Linked DNA regions of Homo sapiens. Changing the gene in region 1 together with any one later gene gives a genetic interaction. Each region holds a gene or a part of one and is shown in the gene's direction. Other genes may lie near its edges.

The links. A genetic interaction does not mean that the proteins touch.
Region 2: changes in FBXW7 (region 1) and CDK1 together harm fitness more than expected from each alone (negative genetic interaction), as found in Homo sapiens cells (one large-scale study listed by BioGRID).
Region 3: changes in FBXW7 (region 1) and NCAPD2 together harm fitness more than expected from each alone (negative genetic interaction), as found in Homo sapiens cells (one large-scale study listed by BioGRID).
Region 4: changes in FBXW7 (region 1) and UBE2S together harm fitness more than expected from each alone (negative genetic interaction), as found in Homo sapiens cells (one large-scale study listed by BioGRID).

What each region holds. Positions count from the first base shown.
Region 1 is NC_000004.12:152,410,363-152,414,366, reverse strand, and holds part of FBXW7 (F-box/WD repeat-containing protein 7), read left to right. Parts: intron 1-1,837; 5' UTR 1,838-1,887; intron 1,888-2,494; 5' UTR 2,495-2,563; coding exon 2,564-3,064; coding exon of another isoform or gene 3,065-3,094; exon of another isoform or gene 3,095-3,207; intron 3,208-4,004. UniProt on the Homo sapiens protein: Substrate recognition component of a SCF (SKP1-CUL1-F-box protein) E3 ubiquitin-protein ligase complex which mediates the ubiquitination and subsequent proteasomal degradation of target proteins.
Region 2 is NC_000010.11:60,777,293-60,781,277, forward strand, and holds the start of CDK1 (cyclin-dependent kinase 1), read left to right. Parts: upstream 1-1,185; 5' UTR 1,186-1,278; exon of another isoform or gene 1,279-1,376; intron 1,377-2,848; 5' UTR 2,849-2,873; coding exon 2,874-2,910; intron 2,911-3,985. UniProt on the Homo sapiens protein: Plays a key role in the control of the eukaryotic cell cycle by modulating the centrosome cycle as well as mitotic onset; promotes G2-M transition via association with multiple interphase cyclins.
Region 3 is NC_000012.12:6,528,602-6,532,101, forward strand, and holds the end of NCAPD2 (condensin complex subunit 1), read left to right. Parts: intron 1-77; coding exon 78-255; intron 256-343; coding exon 344-438; intron 439-911; coding exon 912-992; intron 993-1,173; coding exon 1,174-1,357; intron 1,358-2,089; coding exon 2,090-2,216; intron 2,217-2,319; coding exon 2,320-2,475; intron 2,476-2,725; coding exon 2,726-2,811; 3' UTR 2,812-3,354; downstream 3,355-3,500. UniProt on the Homo sapiens protein: Regulatory subunit of the condensin complex, a complex required for conversion of interphase chromatin into mitotic-like condense chromosomes.
Region 4 is NC_000019.10:55,399,245-55,402,016, reverse strand, and holds the end of UBE2S (ubiquitin-conjugating enzyme E2 S), read left to right. Parts: intron 1-254; coding exon 255-581; 3' UTR 582-2,272; downstream 2,273-2,772. UniProt on the Homo sapiens protein: Accepts ubiquitin from the E1 complex and catalyzes its covalent attachment to other proteins. Catalyzes 'Lys-11'-linked polyubiquitination.

The sequences.
Region 1 (4,004 bases):
ACAAGTGTCATTTTCATGGTCCATGAGGAAAAAGCATTTTCCTCATTTTGGTGCTTTTTGTTAGTGATTGTGCAGTTTAGAATGGCCCCCAAACATAGCCTGAAGTTCTGTTTAATGTTCCGAAGTGCAGGAAGGCTGTAATTTGCCTTAAAGATAAACTAATGTGTGTTAAAGAAACTTAATTCAGGCATTAGTTATAATGCTGTTGACCATGAGTTCGATGCTAATGAATCAATGTATATTAAAGATATATTTAGGCAGAAACACGCATAAAAAAGGTTATGCATTGATCAGTTGGCAACAGTGTTGTGACCAGAGGCTTGTGAGAACTGTATTTCCCCTAGGAGCAATGGCTCAGTATTTGTTAATTCAGTGGTTGCAGCAATTTTATAGAACACAATTACTGTGAATGGGAATCAACTGTATTTGATTAACGGTGGTGATTTATAGGGACTTTAGATACCAGAAATGTTTCATAATTCCCTTTCTCTGAAATCACTGTTTTAATATGTTTAAATGCATGCATGCAGAGTTGTGATGTTAAACATAATTTTACTGTGGGTTCTGGTCAAAAAAGATGAAATGTCATTGGTTAACTTGAAAGAGACATTATTCTAAACATTATCCTCCAGAAAATTGACATGTACAGGAAGCATATTGAATGCTCAGCAAATAATTTGTTTTAGAGTAATAATCTTTGAGTATTGTAGTGATTCGAGTTTTGGAAAAGAAGGCAGTATCAGTGTTAGAGAATAATATTCTTTCAGGATTTTATGTAGTTACTTTAAGGTGCATGAAAGGAGACTCAGTTGGGTGTTAAATTCTTGTCCCTGCTTTACTTGAAACTAGTAATCTTGAGAAATTTACTAAATCATTTTGAGCCTTGATTACCTTGCCTGCAAAGTGAGGAACATTTTCAATTTAAAATTCTATTTCTTTTATTAGTATTCTTCCTGACCTTGAATCATTTCTATTCCCATCATGTCCAGTTGCCAAGAAAACCATGCAACTTAATGTTGTTTGTTAGCCATCAGATTTTATTTTACTGAACTCAAGTTCAGTCACATCAGTTACCGATAAAATAATAAGTTCTATATTAATATTTGATATATCTTGACATTTTGTATTATGGTAGGAAGAAATAAAAGACCTTCCTCAAATTTTAGGATATGGGCTTCTGTTTGTTGATGTTTGTGTTTTATGATACACTGTTGTAAATCATACTAAAGGTTTTCTCTGAAAAAGACTAGAATTGACAATACTTCATTTGTTAGCAGTTTCAAGTTTTAGATCACGGGTGCATAATTTCTTGTGTGTGCACAACATGTTGGCATTTTATCTGACTTCAAAGATGTCCATATAGATACCAGCAAAGGATAAAATGTAAGAATGAATATCATGAAAAGATGCTGTATCAGATAAAATTCTAGAGCCTAGGTTAAAAAACATAAAGGCAAACATGCTTGATATATAAAAATTGAGAAATATGATAAAAAGAAGTAAGTTTAAAGCATCAGTAATACCACTGCCTAAGATGCAGTTTATTTTGAAATGTTGTCTTCTAGTCTTCATACAGTTTAAAAATCATACTATAATCACAATTTCCAGCATTTTCCCCTTAGCATAATATATTATAACATCCATGTTTTTAAAAATATTTTATGAACGTCATGTTTAGGGATTACACCATATATATCCCATCTCATAGATTCCTTTATATTGAACATTTGGATTTTTATTTACATTTTTATTTACATTTATTTTTATCTTTATTTTTTGCTTTCGTGGATAAACTGCAGTGAGCATCCTCTGTATAAATTTTTTTTTTCTGTTTTAGGATTACTTCCTTAGGATAGATTGCCAGAAGTGGAGTTACTGGGTCAGAGGGTATGAACTTATGAACTTTTTTTTTAAATAAATTTTTTGTTCATTTTCTGTCCAGTCATTTGTAAAAAAATTAAAATAATAATGATTATAATTGTTACCTGCTAGAAAACTGTGTCTGAAGGCAAGATTCTGTGATCAGAAAAGTTTGGGAAATACCCAGGGTAAAAAGCCTTTTAATCTGATTTACCTCAGCATTTCCCAAATTAACTGAACACTGAAAATTTTTTTTGATACACTTCTTAAAATTTTGTGGAAGTTTTATATAGGATATAGTCTATGAACTACTGATGTAAAATTAAAATTGTTTTATTTGCTTGAAATATTATGTTTTATTGGTCAAAGGAATTAAACTATAAATCTTCATGCTAAAAATTATTAAAAGGGATTAGTGTTGTTTACTATGGTTTTTGTGCATGTCTTTATAAAGTCTTATAACTTTTAAAATTGAAATGTTCTATATTGTTTACTAAAGAACATTTTAATGCCTTGGTGGCATCAATACTTTTTTGCAATCATTAATGATATTTAGAAAGTAGACATATAACATGAAAGTAGAACATAATATAGATTGTACAAATCTTGTTTTTTACCCTATTTTCCCCTGCAGAATGTGAAAACCTTTGCATCTTCTGATAGTCTAGCCAAGGTCCAAGAAGTAGCAAGCTGGCTTTTGGAAATGAATCAGGAACTGCTCTCTGTGGGCAGCAAAAGACGACGAACTGGAGGCTCTCTGAGAGGTAACCCTTCCTCAAGCCAGGTAGATGAAGAACAGATGAATCGTGTGGTAGAGGAGGAACAGCAACAGCAACTCAGACAACAAGAGGAGGAGCACACTGCAAGGAATGGTGAAGTTGTTGGAGTAGAACCTAGACCTGGAGGCCAAAATGATTCCCAGCAAGGACAGTTGGAAGAAAACAATAATAGATTTATTTCGGTAGATGAGGACTCCTCAGGAAACCAAGAAGAACAAGAGGAAGATGAAGAACATGCTGGTGAACAAGATGAGGAGGATGAGGAGGAGGAGGAGATGGACCAGGAGAGTGACGATTTTGATCAGTCTGATGATAGTAGCAGAGAAGATGAACATACACATACTAACAGTGTCACGAACTCCAGTAGTATTGTGGACCTGCCCGTTCACCAACTCTCCTCCCCATTCTATACAAAAACAACAAAAGTGAGTATATTCAATATATTGTTAACCTGAGAAACTTTACATATCTATTTTAATTGTAATGAAACTTTCCTCACAGTCTTTGTATTACTAAAAATTAATCTTAAGATGTGTAATAATAAAATGAACTAGTTTTTTGTCTTACAGAAGGTAATGGAAAGTATTACAAGTAGAAATACTGATAATGGGACAATCTGAGTACAAATGGAGGGAAAGTAATTGAGCCTATTACTATGAAAAATTATTAACATCAAATTTTCGTCTAAACCTTGCGTCCCGGGCAGGGATTAGTAGCTTGTGTGGGGTGTAGAGGTTTCGGGTGAAACATGATTTGTGTAAATCAAGTAATGAAGAAACTTTTTATTTACAAAATGCAGCTGCTAGAGTGGGCTATTCACAAGTGTCACTCTAAGGCATAAATTACTCAGAAGTTGCCTCAAATTAGTTCTAGTTATTTATCATTTGAGAATTAGAAATAATGAATATTCATGTAGAGTAGACTTACAAGTTAAACTATGTTTTGGAAAGGAACATTTTAACTTGAATATACTTGTTTTATAGACATTAACATAATGTCTGTGGTAGTTCATCCTCTTACTCCTACTTGCTTATTTCTTACATTTTACAGTGATTTTAGGCCATAAACAATATACAAACTGATTTAACATCGTATCGTTTAACCTAACTTGACTTGGAATGAAGTATCTTACACACTTGGATTAATAATAATTGAAATGCTAAATCATGTTTTACATCTGCTTGTAAAACCTTACTTTCTAAAATGTGTTTGGCCCTAATTTACCTAGCCTATCTGCAAGTCAGATTTTATTTAGCTGGCATGATCTAAGAAGGACGTGACATCAAGTAGTGATTTTTCATCCATTGTACCATCCCTGTCTCAAGATGTTGAAGCAGTAGCTTTGGATCTCAGCCAGATGGCTCT
Region 2 (3,985 bases), on another chromosome or scaffold:
TACTGTTCTATTTGTTTATTTTAAAAAGATTTTAGAATGGTGTTTAGGTTGGGCTGGTGGCTCACGCCTGTAATCTCAGCACTTTGGGAGGCCAAGGCAGGAGGATTGCTGGAGCCTAGGAGTTGGAGACCAGCTAGGGCAACATAAGGAGACATTGTCTCCGCAAACAAACAGAAAAAAAAAAAGTAAGAAAGAAAGAGAGAAAGAAGGAAAGAACAAGAAAAAGGAAAAAAAAATTAACTGCAGTAAGTGCAGAAATCTCTCTCAAGGATATGATGGATGGCAATGAAGACAGAGTTTTTGACACTGGATTATTTAAAGCATAATTTAAGCCTCTTTCTCTCCCCTCATAGAATTGTGAATTTTTGTGTTTTAATTATATTTAAGCCAGGCGTGGTGGCGAGTGCCTGTAGTCGCAGCTGCGCTGGAGGCTGAGGCCGATTGCTTGAGCCCAGGATTTGGAGGCCAGCATGCGCAACATAATGAGACCCAGTCTCTAAATGCATGCCTCTCTCTATATATTTAAAATTCTGATGTGAAAATATTTTAAAATTTAATACATTTCAAATGTTTTTAATTGTATAATAAACAAAATGTAAATAATAAAATAATTTAATATTAAATTCAAAAATGAGGTAGAAACAAAGCACAGCGATATAAATAATAAATTTTCCTTTACATTTTTGAGGCGGTCTTTTGAGTTTTCCATTTCCTTCTTAAGGTCACTGAAATGTGCTCCTTGGAGCCAGCCCGCAAATCACGCATTTAGAAAAACATAACTATACACTCCTAACCCTAAGTATTAGAAGTGAAAGTAATGGAATCTCGATGTAAACACAATATCACTTTTTTGATGAGCTATTTTGAGTATAATAAATTTGAACTGTGCCAATGCTGGGAGAAAAAATTTAAAAGAAGAACGGAGCGAACAGTAGCTTCCTGCTCCGCTGACTAGAAACAGTAGGACGACACTCTCCCGACTGGAGGAGAGCGCTTGCGCTCGCACTCAGTTGGCGCCCGCCCTCCTGCTTTTTCTCTAGCCGCCCTTTCCTCTTTCTTTCGCGCTCTAGCCACCCGGGAAGGCCTGCCCAGCGTAGCTGGGCTCTGATTGGCTGCTTTGAAAGTCTACGGGCTACCCGATTGGTGAATCCGGGGCCCTTTAGCGCGGTGAGTTTGAAACTGCTCGCACTTGGCTTCAAAGCTGGCTCTTGGAAATTGAGCGGAGAGCGACGCGGTTGTTGTAGCTGCCGCTGCGGCCGCCGCGGAATAATAAGCCGGGTACAGTGGCTGGGGTCAGGGTCGTGTCTAGGGGACGGCCGAGGGCCTCGGAGGGCGAGTATTGAGGAACGGGGTCCTCTAAGAAGGCCGGACTGGAGGTCAGGGATCTGCGCGGGGCCCGGCTGGGCCTCGGGGGGCGGTGGGCAGGGCCTTCGCCTGGGTCTGGCCGTGTGAGCCACACTGGGCTGGCTTTAGAGGGAGGCTATGGGAGCCCAGCCTGGCGGGGTTAGGCGGCGTGGGGGTGGGGGTTCGGGGCTGCAGTCATGAGTCGAGGTCGGCTGTTCTCAGGAACTGCCTGAAGAGGCTTTCGGGTCTTGATTGAAGCAAAATCCGCTCCCCCACGCTGAGCGCCTGCGGAGTAGCAGGCTCTTTCCTGGGCCCGGCCCCTGCGCGCCCTGCCATCCCGCCTCGGGGGTGGGAAAGTGGGACCGCACCTGGGCCAGGTACAGGCGCGGGTCCCTAGAGCCAGGCCGCCCTGAGAAACCGATCCTGGAACTCGTGGGCCTTCTTGGGCTTGCTCTGCCCACGGCCCCGGCCCACCTGGAGCTGTTAAGAACAGTCAGCCCAGGCACTTAACTCTCATGAGCAGTGTAGTGCAGTTTTTTTCATTTAAAAAGATACATCTCTGCTTCTTTCTGGATTGATTTTTCTTTGAAGATGAATGTGAGAAATAGAACTTAAAGGTCTATTCTGAGTGTGCTTTATAAATGATTTTATCATCAGTGATGGGTGTTAGAAAAATCTAGGTAATTATGCCTGGAGTTCTGACGTTTCATTGGCAAACTTCAGAGGAAGTCTTGAACTTCTGGTTGTCAGCTTTTTTTTTTAACCCATTCATTGTGATTCAAGTATACCGTTTTTCTGCTTAGTCCTTGACATTGTTTAGGTTATAATTAGAATTTTATCTGTGGAATTGCACTTTTCATTCTTTTGTTTTACGGTGCTTAAGTGATATTTCCTACTCTTGGAAAAAGTACCTTGAAAGTCTTGAGCATGTTTGTCTGTGACCTCAGCAAGCAGAGGAAAAAGATTAAAATTGTCACGTGGGCAACTGTAAACACTTAAAATGTTTTTGTCGTTTTAAACAAAATTTTCCTAATGAACAGTCTGAACACATTTTAGTTCTGTCCTCATAACTTTAAAAAATAATGTTTTGAATAAAATTAGGAGTATCATAAAGCGGTATAAATTTGTTGAAATATTTGGGTATAACTTTGGCACACGCAGGTACTACTTTAAAGTGTCACAAAAAGGGAACATAATTCTGGTTTTTGTTTGGAAAGAATAGACAAGTTGATACCTGAATTTGAGGGTTATTTTGATTGGAAGAAGCTAAATACTACACTAGTATAGAATATACACGTTTCCAATGTCTCAGGAGTCAAGAAGGATGGAAAGTTATTGTAGGAGTCCTTACCCTTGTAAATATTGTTTGAATGTAATTAATATTTATGGAATACTTATGCTGCAGTAGGCACTGTGGAAAATGCTTTACATATAGTGTTTCATTAATGCTTAAAACTACTCGAGTTAGTGGCATGTAATTAAGTCAGTTTTTCCTTCACTTTAGGATCTACCATACCCATTGACTAACTATGGAAGATTATACCAAAATAGAGAAAATTGGAGAAGGTGAGTGGTTTTAGTAAAATAAATTTTATGGAATGATTTAACAATGCTACAACTTCTGTAATATGAACACATTTAAATATTTATTAAAATTCAACCATTAAGTTGTCTTGTAGTACCAGTGTGCATTAACATATGTTCTTTACTTAATAAACGCAAATTTGCTCACATTTCAAGAGAATTGAAATTACCGAATCCCTAATGACCGTTCGCCTCACCCCCATAGTCTTACAGTCTTCTGATACTAAACACTTATAGTAGTACTTGTATTTTGAAGACACTATTGATAACTTGCATGTGTGTTGAGGGGCAGAGGTTAGGGCTGCAGAATTATGCTAACTTCATAATATATTTTTAGTTTTAGTCTCTTTCAATTGTTTTTAGGATGATAAATATTTTTATCCAGACTTTATAGACTGGTTACAATAATTGACTTAATCTAATTTAAATAAAATTTCTATTTAGTTACCCTAAGTATAAATGACCTGTCATATAGACATGTTTAAGCTATTCTAAAATTATAACTTATGTATATAATCCTTCCCTTTCTGTGGTACTTGAAGGAATGTTTAGATCTATATATGGCACAAATGAGGGGTATATCCCTTCGCCTGTTCCTCGACTCCAGCAGAACATTCTCGATTCTCCAGGTACAAAATAATTTGCTAATAGAATCCAGTTTATATAGGTTCTGCCAGAAGAAAATTCCCAACTATATTTTTAATGTGATCAAAGACCCCACTTGACAAGAAATAGTGAAAAACAAGGGGGAATACTGGAGGGAATTTAGTGGAATAGGAGTGACAAGTTAGTGTGGTGTTCGATTGGAGGTGTGTGTGTGTATACATATATATATATATTTTTTTTTTAAATCACTTAAATACCTCATACCCATTCTACTAAACAAATTTTGCTGCTGAATTAAAAATATGTGATTAGTATGTCTAATGCTGTGTAGTGTGTTTCTTAAATTCCCAGAGAATTTGTGTTGGTTTTAGTTTGGCATAAAAAGAGACCTTCTTAAAGTATAAATATATTTTTCTTTAAGATGATAGAACTCCAAACATACAGGAGACTG
Region 3 (3,500 bases), on another chromosome or scaffold:
TGCTGAGGGCCTTTTCTACCAGTGTTAGGGTGTAGCCCGGAGGTCTCGGTCCCCATGACCCGCAATTCCATTCCTAGTCTCCGGGACCCTGCTCAGCAAGTGCGGAAAACAGCGGGGCTGGTGATGACCCACCTGATCCTCAAGGACATGGTGAAGGTGAAGGGGCAGGTCAGCGAGATGGCGGTGCTGCTCATCGACCCCGAGCCTCAGATTGCTGCCCTGGCCAAGAACTTCTTCAATGAGCTCTCCCACAAGGTGAGAGGCAGAGAGGCACTGAGGGCTGGCTGCAGAGGGAATCTGTAGGTCACCTCATCTCCTTAACATGGCTCTCTCTGTCTTACAGGGCAACGCAATCTATAATCTCCTTCCAGATATCATCAGCCGCCTGTCAGACCCCGAGCTGGGGGTGGAGGAAGAGCCTTTCCACACCATCATGAAGTATTGCTCCCCGGGCCCTGGGGCACATTTTCCACATAGCACGGGCTTAGGAATCAGACACACCTGTATTTGAATTCCACCTCGGCTACTCTTTAGCTGTACAGCCTTCGGCAATAACTTAGCCTCTCTTTGTGCCTATTTCCTCTTCTTTTGAGGCTGATGATACTTAACCCTTAGTTCTTGAAAATATTAAATACGATAAAGTTCCTAACATGGTGGCAGACATACAGTAGCACTCACTCCCTAGCAGCTGCTCCTGTTAATTTCCATTCACAGTGAAAATTCCTGAGCCGGGGGCGGGGTGGGGTCCCTCTCTGCTGAATGGGACAGGGCAAGGGGAGTGGTGAGGCAGACAGGGGCCGTGGCAGAGAACATCAGAGAAGACGAGTGCTGGGGGAGGGTCCAGGGTTGGTCTTAGTGGATGGCAGAGCTGGCCCTGGGCCATCGAACATCCTCATCTCCCCTTCCTGCAGACAGCTCCTCTCCTACATCACCAAGGACAAGCAGACAGAGAGCCTGGTGGAAAAGCTGTGTCAGCGGTTCCGCACATCCCGGTATGCTGCCCTCCCTGAGGGTTCTTTGTGCTGAGCGGGGCCCTGCAGGGGAGAAAGGCCCATCCCTCACCCCTTCAATGCCCCCACTGTGGCATCCCTGGGACTGGGGAGGCTGATGGGGAAGGTTGAGCCTTTACTAGCTGGATCTCCCAGTTCCTCACAAAGCCCTTCCTATCTGCAGAACTGAGCGGCAGCAGCGAGACCTGGCCTACTGTGTGTCACAGCTGCCCCTCACAGAGCGAGGCCTCCGTAAGATGCTTGACAATTTTGACTGTTTTGGAGACAAACTGTCAGATGAGTCCATCTTCAGTGCTTTTTTGTCAGTTGTAGGCAAGCTGCGACGTGGGGCCAAGCCTGAGGGCAAGGTGAGCAGCACAGGACACTTCAATGCCTGTTGGGTTCTGGGCTGGCTAAGACATCTGCCGGCCCTGGGCAGCATACGGCTCTTGCAGTCACCTTCCCGTCCTCCTTATCCCCAGCTGGGTTGCAACCAAATTGCCAGAGTGACCTAAGACCAGATCTTTGTCTCCAGTTCTTTTTTTATTACTCCAAAAACACAACCAAAGCAGCATCTCATCCAATTCTTGTTTGTTTGTTTTTAATAGTTTTTATTTTTCAGAGCAGTTTTAGGTTCAAAGCAAAATTGAGCAGAAAGTACAGGGAGTTCCCTTCTACCCCTTGCCCCTACACATCACAGCCTTCCCCACCTTCAACATCCTGCACCAGGGTGGCACATTTGTTACAGCTGAACCTACACTTACACATCATCTCCTAAAGTCATGGTTTACCTTGGAGTTCACTGCACGTAATGACATGTACCCACCATTGCAGTATCATACAGAAGAGTTTCACTGCCTTACAAATCCCCTGCACTCCACCTATTTATCCCTCTCTCCCCACAACCCCTGATCTTTTTACTGTTGCCATCACTTTGTCTTTTCCAGAATGTATCATTGGAATGATCCGGTATGGAGCCTTCTCACCTTGGCTTCTTAGTAATGTGCGTTTAAGGCCTCCATGTCTTCCATGGCCTTGTTTCTTTTTAATCAGAAGTAACTGTTTTCAGGCCTGCTCTGAATCTCCTTTTCTCCCTCCAGGCTATAATAGATGAATTTGAGCAGAAGCTTCGGGCCTGTCATACCAGAGGTTTGGATGGAATCAAGGAGCTTGAGATTGGCCAAGCAGGTAGCCAGAGAGCGCCATCAGCCAAGAAACCATCCACTGGTACGTAAGGCAGCCTGTGCGGGCGAGACCAGACTGGGCCCTCCCCTCCTGCAGTGATTTGTTTCTTCTTCTTTTTTAAATCACGTTTTCCTGCCTTTTCTAGGTTCTAGGTACCAGCCTCTGGCTTCTACAGCCTCAGACAATGACTTTGTCACACCAGAGCCCCGCCGTACTACCCGTCGGCATCCAAACACCCAGCAGCGAGCTTCCAAAAAGAAACCCAAAGTTGTCTTCTCAAGTGATGAGTCCAGTGAGGAAGGTATGATGCTCCCGCCTGTTCCCGGCCGAGAAGGCACACAGCTAGGGTGCAGAGGGCTGGTTTCCATAGGACCTGCTGCGGGGGCCTGAGTGTAGATGCTCTGCCCCACTGCCGCAGAAGGGCCTCTCCTGTACAGCTTGGATTTTATTTCTTCTGTGCGGTGTGGGATTGTCTCACTTGTTCTCTGATATCTATTTTTTCACCATCTTTGTGACTCAGCTTTTTCTTATTCCTTTAATTCTTTGCATAGATCTTTCAGCAGAGATGACAGAAGACGAGACACCCAAGAAAACAACTCCCATTCTCAGAGCATCGGCTCGCAGGCACAGATCCTAGGAAGTCTGTTCCTGTCCTCCCTGTGCAGGGTATCCTGTAGGGTGACCTGGAATTCGAATTCTGTTTCCCTTGTAAAATATTTGTCTGTCTCTTTTTTTTAAAAAAAAAAAAGGCCGGGCACTGTGGCTCACGCCTGTAATCCCAGCACTTTGCGATACCAAGGCGGGTGGATAACCTGAGGTAGGGAGTTCGAGACCAGCCTGACCAACATGGAGAAACCCCATCTCTACTAAAAATAAAAAATTAGCCGGGCGTATTGGCGTGCGCCTGTAATCCCAGCTACTCAAGAGGCTGAGGCAGGAGAATCGCCTGAACCCAGAGGCGGAGGTTGTAGTGAGCCGAAATCACACCATTGCACTCCAGCTTGGGCAACAATAGCGAACCTCCATCTCAAATTAAAAAAAAAATGCCTACACGCTCTTTAAAATGCAAGGCTTTCTCTTAAATTAGCCTAACTGAACTGCGTTGAGCTGCTTCAACTTTGGAATATATGTTTGCCAATCTCCTTGTTTTCTAATGAATAAATGTTTTTATATACTTTTAGACATTTTTTCCTAAGCTTGTCTTTGTTTCATCTTTCACATTAGCCCAGTTTCATGCAGCAGAGAGAGGGTTATCAGTGCAGAGAGAGATGAGTGAGCCCAGAGTCCTAGGGCCTGTCCCGGGATGGCAGATGAGCTTCCTGCCCC
Region 4 (2,772 bases), on another chromosome or scaffold:
CAGGGACATTTTAAACCATTGGGCCTATGGCATCGTGTCCTTTTGGGAACATCTGCTGTGAGGCAGGTCACATGAAGGTGGCCTCTGAGGGAGACAGGAGCAAAGATGAGGGAGGATGCAGCATAGGTGGGGCCTGGATCTGCAGCTGAGTTGGGAGCAGAAGGAACAGCCAGTGCGGAGGCCACCCTCTTGTGGAGGCCTGGGGGTCCCTGTAGGTTGCCCGACCCACTGTGACCCTGAGCCTCTTCCCACAGACCATCAAGTGCCTGCTGATCCACCCTAACCCCGAGTCTGCACTCAACGAGGAGGCGGGCCGCCTGCTCTTGGAGAACTACGAGGAGTATGCGGCTCGGGCCCGTCTGCTCACAGAGATCCACGGGGGCGCCGGCGGGCCCAGCGGCAGGGCCGAAGCCGGTCGGGCCCTGGCCAGTGGCACTGAAGCTTCCTCCACCGACCCTGGGGCCCCAGGGGGCCCGGGAGGGGCTGAGGGTCCCATGGCCAAGAAGCATGCTGGCGAGCGCGATAAGAAGCTGGCGGCCAAGAAAAAGACGGACAAGAAGCGGGCGCTGCGGCGGCTGTAGTGGGCTCTCTTCCTCCTTCCACCGTGACCCCAACCTCTCCTGTCCCCTCCCTCCAACTCTGTCTCTAAGTTATTTAAATTATGGCTGGGGTCGGGGAGGGTACAGGGGGCACTGGGACCTGGATTTGTTTTTCTAAATAAAGTTGGAAAAGCAGCTTCTGTGTCTCACAGATGCCCCAGGACCGCTGCATGGTGCCATGTGGCTCTGGGAGTTTGGCTCCCCTGCACAGGCCCTGGGTCCTTGTAAAGCCTCATGGACTGCAGCAGTGGGTCCATCTAGCTCACCAGCCTTGCTGTTTGAGGTTTGGGTCCACCTCTTTGTTCTGTGGAGGTAGAGCGGTCACAACCCCTCTTTGGAGTCAGATTTCCAATCTAAAATGGGGCGAGGACCTGGAGCTGCTCCTGGTGGCCTGAGCGGCACTGCCCTATACTTCTCCCTCTAGAATAATGGCCACGTTGGTGTGGCAGTGGTGTTCCTGCTCAGGACGGCCAGGTGCCAGCAGTCTGGCATGAGGCTCGCCTCGTCTGTCTGGTTCTGGACTGGGCCAAGGTTCGGTCCCCTTGAATCATCTGATCCTGCTTTGTGCTAAAGATTGGTTTTTCCCTTGTGGGCAGCAAAGCCTGTTCCCACATGTATTTCTGCACAACAGATCACAAAGCCAGCGGCTTAAAACAACACCCACTTCAGACTTTGTGTTGGAAGTCTGGACACGGCTGAGCTAGTCTCTGCTCAGTGCTTTGCAGGCTAAAATTGAGGTATTGGTTGTTGGTGTTCCTTAGTCTGGGTCCTCTTCCATGCTCATGGTTGTTGGCTGATTTCAGTCCTCGTAGAACTAGGGTCTTAGCTCCAAGAAGCTGCCCCTCCTTGGGCCCTGGCAGGTCTGATTTAAGGGCCCATTCCCTTTGAGGTGCTCACCGGATTAGGTCAGGCCCATCCAGATACTTAAGTGATAATGACTAAATCACAGGGGTAAGATCCCAGCTTAGTCTTAGTTTCTGCCCTCAAGGGGAAGGGATTAACCTGGGTGTGCACACCAGGGGGTGGGGAAACTTCCCATTCTATTAATGCGTTTAGGTTATTTAGACCAATGTCTCATTAATTTTAAAAAAATTAAAAATAGGCCAGGCGCAATGGCTCACGCCTGTAATCCCAACTTTAGGAGGTGAAAGGATCACTTGAGGCCAGGAGTTAAAGACGAACGTGGGCAACACAGTGAGATCCCATCTCTACAAAAAGTAAAATACATTTACAATAAAAATCTACAAGTTCTGACCCATAGGAGAGTGGAAAACTCAAAGGCTGCTTTTGTCCTGAAAGAATTTGCCTATTCTAATAAAACAGCTGAGGTTGAAACGGCTCAGCCTCTGAAAGGGGTCTGACCCTTCCTTGAGCCCTTGCCTCCAGTGACAATCTCCCAAGCTAAGGGAGAAAAGGAACCAAAAGTCTGCACTCCTCTCTACCTCTAGCAGTGCAGGGAGCGAAGGAAAGACAAGGGAAGAAACCCTTCAGATTTTCAGATCAAATTCACATCACTGGCCATCCAAGAAATCTTAAGCTCTGCGTTTATCGTCAACCATTTCTGCATGAGGGAAGCAAACAGTCCTTGCTGAAGGAAGGTGCCTGCATCCTGGGCCTCGGAACCCACTGAAATAATTTAGCGAAGTGCATAATAAAAATAATATTTGCCCTTAGCCCTGACAGAGTTCCTCAATCCCTTGGAATCTCCTGGGTATTAATAGGAGCAGTCTTTGTCCTAATGAAGCCATCTGTGATGGGCCCCTGCGTAGCTTCAGGAAGGGGGTTGGTCACTAGAAATACCAAGACCGAATTAGACAGTTGGGAATTTCAGCCCCACCCATACCTACCAACCTCTGGGAAGAGAGGGGCTGAAGGTTGAGGTCAATGACCAATGGTCAATGATTTGTCTAATATGCCCATGTAATGAAACCTCCGTTAAAACACTAAACAAGGTTGGGTGGGGTGGCTCACGCCTGTAATCCTAGCACTTTGGGAGGCCAAGGCGGGCAGGTCACCTGAGGTCAGGAGTTCAAGACCAGCCTGGCCAACATGGTGAAACCCTGTCTCTACTAAAAATACAAAAATTAGCTGGACGTGGTGGTGCATGTCTGTAATCCCAGCTACTTGGAAGGCTGAGGCAGGAGAATCTCTTGAACCTGGGACACAGAGGTTT